Linked DNA regions of Homo sapiens: region 2 is linked to region 1. Evidence: fine-mapped expression QTL. Tissue or cell type: monocytes. Region 1 holds a variant in brackets; the other region holds the start of a gene. All regions are shown on one strand. Distances are between the middles of the regions.

Region 1 (6,074 bases):
ATAGGGCATCAATTCTTGGTTGGCTCCACCCCATCTTTCCAGTGCGCGTGCGGGTCCTTAGTCTGAGCCACTCCACATTGATTTATTTCCTTACTGCGCATGTGTTAAGGGACGGAATTTTTCATTGCGGGCATGTTTGGGCAAGCCTTCTGTGCACAATGAGCTTGGCGGGTCGGGGGTTCTCCAGGGACCCTCCCCTATCTGCCTAGGAGAGTTCTCTGCCTCCTGCCTCTATCAGTATTCTCATGTCAATGCCAGGCTGCAATCATTTTTTTCTTTATATGCTAAATATACAAGTAGAAAATTATAGAATCAATTTAACTGTAAACATGTAATGTCATTATGTACATGATCTTAAATTATCCTTTTGGAAGATAAGTCTTTTTCTTTTTTAGTAGAAATATTAGGTCCTCTGTTTTCATTGTTAACCACATCAGAATCTGTATTATTACTTTTTATTTTGGAAATCAATTGCAGTACAGCAGGCTTACCATATGGTGGCACCCAAAAGCCCAGAAACCAACATCATGCGGCCCAGTATTAGACATGTGTTCAAAAATGTAGGCAGTCAGCTTTCTAGTAGGTAGCAACAGGAAATAAAGCGTCGTAAGACAGTCATCTTAAGAGGGTGCTGGAAATGTTCTACATTTTTATCTGGGTGGTGATTACATAGGTGTATATGTAAAAATTCATAAAGCTGTATTTTTATTTGTTCATTTTATTATTTGTATGTTGCACAACAATAAAAAAATTTAGGCTGGGCACAGTGGTTCACTCCTGCAATCCCAGCACTTTGGGAGGCCGAAGCGGGCGGATCACTTGAGTCAGGAGTTTGAGACCAGCCTGGCCAACATGGTGAAACCCCGTCTCCACTAAAAATACAAAAATTAGCCGGACGTGGTGGCGCGTGCCTGTAATCCCAGCTAGTCAGTAGGCTGAGGCACTAGGATCGCTTGAACCCGGGAGGCAGAGGTTGCAGTGAGCCGAGATCATGCCATTGCAGTCCAGCCTGGGCGACAGAGCAAGACTCTGTCTCAAAAAAAAAAAAAAAAAAAAAAAAAAAAATTAAATGACTATAAATGAGAACCATTTTATATAAGCCATCTTAAATTTTTCCCTATTAATGAAAACAATAACAACAGATTTTAGAGAGTACTAAATATTAGCAATTTTCCTGCATAGTATGAAACTATTTTATGATAGTTATTTTATTATTTTATTTTTTCTTTTATTATTCCCATTTTACACATGATATAGTTATTTGGGCTCATTTCTATACATTTAAAACATTAAAAAATTGTCAGTTTAAGTTAAAACTGTACCATCAGCGCATAACAGTACAATGGATGAATAAATTATGGGCACAATCACATATTGGAACATTTTTATACAAAAGAAGAATTAAAGAACCACAGCTGCATGCATTGACATGGATAAACTGCCAGGCACGGTAGCCCATGCATGTAATCCCAACACTTTGGGTGGCTGAGGTGGGAGGATTGCTTGAGCCCAGGAGTTTAAGACCACCCTGGGCAACCTAGTGAGACCCTGTCTCTAAAAAAAAAAAAAAAAATTAGCCAGGTGTGGTGGCATGTGCCTGTGGTTCCAGCTACTCTGCAGGTTGAGATAGTAGGATCACTTGAGCCTGGGAGGTTGAGGCTGCAGTAAGCGGTAATCATACTGCAGTACTCCAGCCTGCGCAACAGAGTGAAACCACGTCTCAAAAAAAAAGGACACGTTTTATAAACACAGTGTTGGGTGAAAGAAACAAGTCACAAAGATCACTTACATAGAAACTTTTGTATAAAGTTCAAAAATAGTCAAAATGAACTATATTGTTTATGGATGCATATATAGGTGGCAAGCCTAAAGAAACACCAGACAGAATGATTATCATAAAAGTCAGGATAGTGGTTACCCCTTAAGGGGAAGGAGAATGATGCCATCCGAGGAGAGGAACACAGATGGCTTCTAAGGTACTCGCATAGTCCTTCTATTGCTATATTTCTGGCCTGGCGCGGTGGCTCATGCCTGTAATCCCAGTACTTTGGGAGGCCAAGGCAGGTGGATCACAAGGTCAGGAGTTCGAGAACAGCCTGGCCAATATGGTGAAACCCCGTCTCTACTAAATATACAAAAATTAGCTGGGCATGGTAGTACATGCCTGTAGTCCCAGCTACTTGGGAGGCTGAGGCAGAAGAATCGCTTGAACTGAGGAGGCGGAGGTTGCAGTGAGCCGAGATCATGCCACTGCACTCCAGCCTGGGTGACAGAGTGAGACTCTGTCTCAAAAAAAAAAAAATAAAAATAAAATAAAATAAAAATATACATATTTCTTAACTTGAGTGGTGGTTACACGGGGTCTTACTTTATAATTGCTCTTTAAGTATAAAAGAGGCAGATCTAAAAGTAAAATTCCAACAGTCAGGTATTTTGTAGTCTGGAAAGTCCGTGGTATTACCCTTTAGCCAACTAAAAATTGTCATAGGCCCTTAGAATTATGTGTAAGGTTGCCAGATTTAGCAAATAAAAATA[C/CAG]AGAACTACAGTTAATAAATATTCAGGGTTGTGAGTTGAATGTTAACTTCAGATAAAGAACAAGTTTCTAGTATAAGCATATCCTCATGCAATATCTGAGACATACTTATAATAAAAAACAAATCATTGTTTACCTGAAATTCACATGTTACTGGGCATCCTGTATTTTATCTGGTGACCCTAGTTATATGGCAAGTTGCACAAGCAGAAGCAGTTCATGGTGGCCCAGTGTAAGGAGTACCCAGAGGAGGCTCAGGGAAAGGGAAGAGAAGGAAGAAAAATCTTTAAGTAAATTAGCCTGACCCTAAGTTCCTATCTGAATAATTGTGTAAATGAATTTGCTGGCCAGGTGTGGTGGCTCATGCCTGTAATCCCAGCACTTTGAGAGGCCGAGGCAGGCAGATCACCTGAGGTCAGGAGTTCGAGACCAGCCTGACCAACATGGAGAAACCCTGTCTCTACTAAAATACAAAATTAGCAGGGTGTGGTGGCGCATGGCTGTAATCCCAGCTACTTGGGAGGCTGAGGTAGAAGAATCGCTTGAACTCGGGGGGCGGAGGTTGCGGTGAGCTGAGATTGTGCCATTGCGCTCCAGCCTGGGCAACAACAGCGAAACTTCATCTCAAAAAAAAAAAAAAAAAAGAATTTGCTGAGTTCAACCATTATTGCAGTAGTTCATAGTAATGAATCTCCATGATGCATTGAATAATTTATATCAACAAAAAGCAAATGTTTGAAAGAGCCATCAGTGTTTCTCCTTAAAAAAAAACTCTCTCACTGCATCAGCCTCTCTTCTATTTACTTTGGATGAAGATATTGTAGATGATAGTCTTGATGATACTTTTCTATAACTAATTTTTTTTGTAATTTGTAGCCAATGCTTAGAAGTGAAGTTGCAAGGTAGGTTGTTTTGTTTTTCTTCTGCTAATACATGTATTCTCCTGATCATGTACCAGGAACTGACTTAGGCCCAAAGGACAGGATAATGTATGATACCGACACAGTCCCTTCCTATGGAGCTCAGAATCTAGGCCCTAGAAGACTGTAACGTGTGTGTGTGTGTGTGTGTGTGTGTGTGTGTGTGTGTGTGATGCACTTGGTAAAGCATTATCTAGCAACAGTGAATATCTGTTGTTTGTTGCATAGCATCCCACCTTCTTTTGGGAAACCATCCAGACTCCATTCTGTTATTTGGTTTAGGTGAAATTGACCACAAATCAATCACTACCATTGATGAAGATTGATTCAAGAATGGTCGTATAATCCAGTAAGAACTGATGAATGCCTGAGAGCCAATAAATAAAGACTTCTGGAAAAGAGAGGCATTCATTCTTGCCTTTGAGCTTTGCAAGGTGGTAAAGCTTGGTAATAGTCGCCATATAGCTAACTTGAGTGGAGCCATCAAGGTAACCAAGGCTGTCAGACACCCCCAGAGAGAATCATTCACATGTGCAAAGGATGAACTCAACACCCAGAAGAAGCATCCTAGTGACATTGGGCAGCTCTGATTCAAGAGGAACCTGAAACTACTCACAGAATTCATTGAAATTGAGCCAATAAATTCATTCATTTCTTAGGGCGGCTTCAGTTTTCTGTCATTTGCAGCATAAAGATCTGGTGTAATAAAAGTCTAGGAGGAAATAAAAGATTTCTTTCCTATTCTCAACCTCCGGTTTCATCTCCTAGAGATAATCACTGTTTCTTACAGACATATGTTTGCAAACATGTATCTAATGTATGCCTTTTAATGCAAATAGGATTGTATTAAATATATAGTTCCACCACTTGCTCTTTTAAACTTATGTTGTATTATGGGCATCTTCCTTTGTCAACATATAGATCTACCACTTTTTCTTTATAGTTGCATACAATTCTATAAATTAGATGTATCATCAATTTAATCTCTTCCTTTGATAGAAATTTAGTTTTTCCTCAATTTTTTACTTTGACAAACATTACCTTTATACGTATATCTTTGTGCACTTGTGCAGCTATAAAAGGAAAAAAAAATCCTAAAAGTGAAAGTGCTCAAAGAGAATGTGCACTTAAAATTTTTGGCCTCCAGAATTATTACAGCAATTTATACTCTTTTCAGAAACATGAGGCTACGTTTCCTAGTGCTGGTAAAACTGTGTTTGATAAACTTCAGAAAAGTTTGCCAGTACGATAATGAAAAGCAGTATTGTTTTCTTGATTTGCATTTGTTTAGTGAGTGCATATATATATATACACGTGGAGACATACATGGAGCGACACATACATATTTAGGCTATTTTATAACTTCATTAACTATTTTAATGTAAATTTTTTATTCATATCCTTAGTTGATTTTTCTGTTGGGTCATTTATCTTTTCCTCATTTATTTGTCTTTATATATTAAGAAAATAGATTCTTTTCTCATACGTATTTTGAATATTCTTTTCAGTTTTGTTGTTTGTCTTTTTGGTAATTTATTTCTGAATTTCTTTTTCTATTAAATGTTCTAAGTAGAGAAAAAACAGGAGAGGATTATATAATGAGCACTCATACAGCCACTACCTAGTTTTAACATGTTGTCATTTTGTAATATTTGCTTCAGCGTTTTTTTTAAAAGAAAAAATGTTGCAGATACAACTGAAGTTCTTTCATACCCTCTCCAATTCCATTCCTTTCCACCCCTCCCCAGAATAACTAGCATCCTGAAGGAAATGTGCCTGTGTTTTTGGAAACCCTTTATACCCCTCAAATACCCCTCACATGAACTATTTAAATATTTTCCTTTGTCTTTCAGGAAAAAAAAAAAGAAAATGTTAAAAAGACAGAAATAACAAATGGGGCCAGGTGCAGTGGCTTATGCCTGTAATCCCAGCACTTTGGGAGGCTGAGGTGGGAGGATCATCTAAGGTCAGGAGTTCAAGACCAGCCTGGCCAACATGGTGAAACCCCATCTTTACTAAAAAATACAAAAATTAGCCAGGTGTGAGAAGCTATTCTCAAACTGTGCGAGCCTCTTGACAGATGTTGCTAATAAAGAACAGAGAAGAATCTGCCCATCAAACTTTCCTCAAATGAGGTCACTGAGTTATGATCAGATGGCATCATTATAATTTATTTCAACCTCAGAAGAGGTTATTTTTTTAAGGTCATAGTATCTCTTTCTGTCCACTTTGAAGCATATATTAGTTGGCATCAAAGCCCTCCATGTCTGCTTCTGTAAAAGGTCATGGTTGAGGGAGTTGGGGGTGTTCAGGCCTGCTTGGACACATGAAAAATGAAGAAACTTCATAAGCACTGTGATGAAACCAACGTGGTCATGTCTGAACATTTTTGAAGAATGAATTTTAAAACAGTTTTTAAAAAACCCACAAGCCTTTTGAATGGTCTCCAGTTATTTGGTATGCTGAAACTTCTACCTCATTGCTTTTTCTTTTCTATTAAAGTTTTGTTTGTTTGTTTGTTTAGAGCTAGTGTCTCACCCTGATGCCCAGGCTGATCTCAAAACCTTTTGAATGGTCTCCAGTTATTTGGTATGCTGAAACTTCTACCTCATTGCTTTTTT
Region 2 (5,537 bases), 86 kb before region 1:
TAAATAATCGGCTCTGCTTTCTTCTCCAATTACTGTCTTTCTTTCTCTTTTCTGCTTATCCTTAAAGACTTTCCCTTTTTGTTCTCATCTTCATCTCCTACTCTCTTCTGGCTCTAACTGAAGTTCTCACGCAGCTTCCCTCCTGACCTTCTGGACAGCCACCTGCTTTCCCAAGTTTCCTCCTTTCCCTCCTGTGGAGATGCCTCTCTTAGAATCCTTGCTTTTATCAGCGGCTTACAATCTCTGCATCCGTAGAAACCAGACAGCCTTTTTGTTTGAGGGCTAACACTTGCCTTGTCCCTATTTCAAATAACACAGTGAGCTGTACATAGAAGTTACTCAATGATATCTTAATTGATTTTATTGGGTTCCTTTTTACGCTTATCTTAGAAAAGGGATGTGACTTTGGATTGGGTAATAAAGAGCCGTTTATTGCATGTGTACAAATTATAAATTCCCAGGCACACCCTGATCATAGCAGGATCCTTTTGTTAGCTTTATGGGGCATGAAGTTGGCACCAAAGTATTCATGGGGATGTACAAGTAAGGAAGGGAAGCCAAAAGCATGTCTGATCATACAATCAGGTGTAAGCAAGCCCCCTAAGTAGCCAGGGCATGAACTTTGTCTATCTCTGAAATGACCAGAAGAAAAGGCAAGAGTGTGATTCATCCCTTGCCTCCACAGCAATTCATTTGGCTATCTACTTTTCTTATTACCAATGGCTAACCCTCTAAGGGTACCACTCCTGGCCATGAGGCCTCATGACTCAAAGTCTTAAGATTTATAGCATTTTCCCTGGAGACCAAGGGCATTCCTTTGGGTGATACCTTTTTACTACCCAGAGGTTAGTCATTTACTATGGGTGATCCATTCAAATAAATTGGTTGCCAGGCTACCTCTTCAGATAAGAGTTCAAACTTGCATAAATAATCCCCAGCCACACTGTGACTTCTATGTGCAAGCCTAGAGGGGACGATGTTGCAGGAACCGTGCCAACCACTAAGACACTTTCAAGTTTATCCTAGAGAATGCCAAGACAGCTTCTCAATTCCATCAAGTGAGTCCTTCACAGGAACATTTCCCTAAGTTGAAAAACTGCAGGAAATAATTTATCTTTATGTTATTAATTGGTTACTATAAGGGCTACAGGAATTATTTAGGAACCAGATGATACCTGGTTTTCTCCATAGTTTACATAAGCCAGTCCCTGCAAAGATTCTTCCCCTACCCCCCTTAATTTTTTTTTTTTTCCTCAGAGATCCTTGTTCCAACCTGCAAGGATTCTTTGGCCTGGTGCTTTTCCAGGTAAAGTGTAAGAGCCAGGATTTCTGGATTTTGTTCCTAGACATGAGTGAGCTTGGATAAGTAAATCATTTTCTCTTTTAGTCTGTTTGGGCTTCTGTAACAAAATATCATAAACTGGGTAGCTTATAGGCAATATACATTTATTTCCCACAGTTCTGAAGGTCGGGAAATCCAAGATCCAGGCCAGCAGATTTGATGTCTGGTGAGGGCCTGCTTTCTGGTTCACAGAGGGAGCCTTCTGGCTGTGTCTTCACAAGGTGGAAGTGGCAAGGGGTCTCTCTCCGGCCTCTTTTATTAGGGCACCAATCTCATTCATAAGGACCCTGCCCCTATGACCTAATCACTTCCCAAGGCCTCCACTTCCTAATACATCACCGTGAGGGTTAGGATTTCAACATATGAACTTTGGCGGGATATAAACATTCAGACTATAGCACCCTGACAGTAAAAATGAGATAATAATACTTATCTCTTTCTTCCAACAAAAAGATAAGGTGAAGTTAAAAGGAGGGTATATATATATATAATGTGAATTTCCTGTGTAAAATGTGTTAAAGAGTTGTCTGATTAATTGCTTTATAAGGGAATTGCTTTGAGACTAGGCCTATTGATCTAGAATAAGTAGTCAATTTGTAGTCAGTTCCCTAGGGAATAGACATTGAAAAGATTTTTGGTTTTGTATTCTACAAATAAAGCAACCTATTAATTGAATTCCTCTCAGCGAATTCTTCACTCAGGTGATTCTGGAGAGGGCGGGGGACAGACGCGGCCGCAGCCCAGGTCCCGGGAGCGCCACGGAACCTAACGGTGGCAGCGGAGGTCGCGCCCCTCAGTGCCCGCGCTCTCCCCGTCGGGAGCTTCCTGGTCGCCCCTGCGGCGGCGGCTCGGGGTGTCTGGCCGGCGCGGGGCTCGCCCAGCCTGGTCCGGGGAGAGGACTGGCTGGGCAGGGGCGCCGCCCCGCCTCGGGAGAGGCGGGCCGGGCGGGGCTGGGAGTATTTGAGGCTCGGAGCCACCGCCCCGCCGGCGCCCGCAGCACCTCCTCGCCAGCAGCCGTCCGGAGCCAGCCAACGAGCGGTGAGCTGCGCGGGGCGCGGGGGACGCGGCTCCGGCCGGGCAGGGGAGAGGGCGCCCGGGCGCTGCTTGGGGCGCGGTCCGGAGAGGGTTCGGCTCCCCGGGACCGGGCCGGGGCGCGCGCGGAGAGCCCCACAGCCTGTGCTCTGCCCTCCAGGAGCGGGGCGGCGGGCAGCGATCTGGGCCCGGGGCAGTCGCCTTTGATTATCGAGGGCGCTGGCGTTCGGGGAAGGTTGGCAGCACCTTACGAGACCCACACACGTCCCCGGGGCGGCACGGGCCACCTTCTGCGGAGCCTCGTGGGCTTCGCCGCCGTCGCACCTCCGCCGCCTGCGCTCTGCGGCCCCAGAGTAAGCCCCATCCGGTGACGAGCCGCAGTCTGGTCACCCCAGTCCCACCAGGTCCCGCTGCGAGGGGAGGCGGAGGGGCTCGCTCAGCAAACCAGACGGCCGCTCCAGTTTCTCTAATTGGGGTTGGAGCCCCGTCACCCTTCCCCAGATCACGGCCGCGGGGGAGCGAAGGGACTTCCCAGGACTGCATAGGGCGCCTCCCGGGACCCACAGCTTGGCTGGCCCGGCCCCTTTTGAGCATCAGCTGAGGCTGGACTTGGAGGAGATCTCGCTGTGGAGCGCGAATGAGTTCTTCCACCGGGACCAGCTGCGGCCGGGCTGCAGCCGCTGTCTGGTTGCTGATCCCACAGAAAATGGTGCTTGCCCCATGGCCTGAGTGGGCATGACCCGGCTTTGCAAAGACTGCAAACTCTAAGCTTTTCCGAATCAAATGCCCCTCCCTGCCCAGACTGTCTGTGCCCAGGAAATGGTGGGTGTGGCAAAATGTTGGTCCTAGCGTGCAGAGCCCTACCGGGGGGCTTTCACAACATGTTTGAGAGTTTATTCTGAATTATCGGGTGCTCAAATAGAAACACTAAAACGATTGCCCTCTGAGCAGTAGGCGTTCAGGTCCAGGGAGTCGGGGACGCATGGTGGAGGCTGGGACTTAGGTTTCAGCCTTACCCTTCAAGTTCGCCATGCGGGTTCCAGAGACTGCGGAATGTTTGTAAAGTGACTCTGGGAATTGGGTTGCTGCGCAATGAGGACACCTGGACCTCAGTGACTCAGGCTGTCTCTAGGATTCTGGGGAAGAAATGGGAGAAGGCTCAGTTAATTCTGAAGAAAATGAGACTGATACAATTAACTACTTGGGCACAGGGCCTGAGAAGAAAAAGCTTTCGTCAGCTTCCAAAGTTCTGATTTGTTTACCTAAGGTTTTTTTTTTTTTTGAGACGCAGTTTCGCTCTTGTTGCCCAGGCTGGAGTGCAACGGCACTATCTCGGCTCACCGCAACCTCTGCCTACCGGGTTCAAGCGATTCTCCTGCCTCAGCCTCCCGAGTAGCTGGGATTACAGGCATGCGCCACCATGCCCGGCTAATTTTGTATTTTTCGTGGTGGTGGTGGTGGGGGGGGGGGGGTCCCTCCATGTTGGTCAGGCTGGTCTCGAACCCCCGACCTCAGGTGACCCGCCTGCCTCGGCCTCCTAAAGTGCTGGGATTATAGGCGTGGGCCACTGCGCCTGGCCTACCTCAAGTTTATAAACATTTCATACTAGGAAATTGTGTGTTTCCATAAAAGGTAAAGTTGAATAATGATCATTTACTTTTCTACAACAATAGTCTCCCTTTTAGACATTGACTCTCAATCCTTAGGGTAGGGTCTCTCATTCTAAAGATGATCATACCCCATCCTTGATCTTTGGGGGACTTAAGCAACTTCCTAAATTCATAATATTTAGAGGTGATGTTTAAAATCAGCACTTAGTCCAGATTCTGGGGAGAAGTTTGATGATGGTCCTTGAATATTTAGCACTTAGAAGTGCTAGGAGGATGCCTCACTAAGTTACGTAAGAAGCAGAAGAGGACGAGTACCGCCTGATGGATTGACCCCGAAAACTAGCTGTGTCCAAGTAGAATAGGTGTCTCGCTCTGTTAAGCGGTCTTTAAACTATGATAGTTCGCTGTACTACAAATATGCATAGGTGCTTTACAAAGACTTTTCACTTAGTGAGGTCAAGAGGCTAATGCTGGTCTCATGTATAATTTAGGTACCTTTTTACATAGAACCCTCATTAGCCAGACTCTAAACCTTAACTGCAGCCAAGACCTTTGTTCATGTAGTATGCCTTCAGAATCTCGTGTTGACCTTAAATGCCAAGTGGCTTGTAAACTTATGTACTTGATACTTGTGGTAACTGATCTCAAACATAGCTCTTCTTTCCTGTGATCGTTTGGGACACAGGCTCCCACTCAAGGGTAGCTCCTTGTGTCTGGTGCCTGAACTGGATCTTCTCATTAAATTCTGAGTGGGTAACTTAAGAACCAGTCTAGGCTGTGCTTGCTGTATACTTCCAGTTCGCTATTGACCAAGTGTCATGTGTTCTCTTTTGAACTGTTCAGCTTTTCCGTAGGGGGGAAGATCAGTCATGAGAAGCAGAAAGTAACTCTACCTTCCTTGATGCCAGGGAGCTATGATGAGAAAGAAATCCTAGGAAAGGACCAGTTCCCCTTATTCCAACTTAGCATCACTGAATTTGTCTTTGGCAAATGGGCTTTCCTCAAGTCCTGCTCTGTGTTTCAGCAAGGACAGGAAGTAGACTGCCTCTTGTGTTACTTGAGGAGCAGTGTAGGGCAGTGCCTAGGGGCTCAGGAAGTAGTCTTCTTCTGTGACGGTTGCGCACAGGTCAGGGACCTTTATGAGCAGACATTTCAGAAGTGTTCCTGGGAACCCAGACAACTGGACTGATTGCTGGGTGGGCCTAGAATAGCATAGTGCAGCGGATAGCTACTCTTTGTTAAAGGGAAAAGCTACCAATTAACAGCCGATTAAAATGGTCTGTATTCTAACTCATGTTTAAATTCCTTATTCTGAAGCTACACTGAACTGCTTACTGTAGGTGTTTACAAATGTGGAGACCCAGCTAGTATTTCTCTACTTTTAGTTTATTTTTTGAAGTTTTTTTTTTTTCCCCTCTGACTGTTCAAAATTCTCTGATCCTGGAAACACCAGGGTGGGGTTCACATATCTATAGTGTCTGTAGAGTGGGAAGATTTGTGACATTTGATTGTATGTCTCTCTCTGTAAACTACTCATCTGAAAAGAAAAAAGA

The links. PIP is the estimated chance that this variant, and not a neighbour inherited with it, causes the effect.
Region 2: LGALS3 starts here. The variant in region 1 is fine-mapped to the expression of LGALS3 in monocytes (TOPMed, PIP 0.98).

Annotation. Positions count from the first base shown.
Region 1 is chr14:55,212,746-55,218,819 of GRCh38, forward strand. It overlaps LOC107984708 (a long non-coding RNA gene), which reads left to right. Exons shown (of 3, transcript XR_001750768.2): 3 at 3,736-4,201. Among named protein-coding and RNA genes, the nearest start is that of DLGAP5, 24 kb to the left of the region's middle. The variant C/CAG (reference allele first, on the strand shown) is at 2,536.
Region 2 is chr14:55,126,921-55,132,457 of GRCh38, forward strand. LGALS3 (galectin 3) reads left to right here and starts at 2,332. Exons shown (of 6, transcript NM_002306.4): 1 at 2,332-2,380. RefSeq lists a silencer at 2,028-2,627 and an enhancer at 2,978-3,167.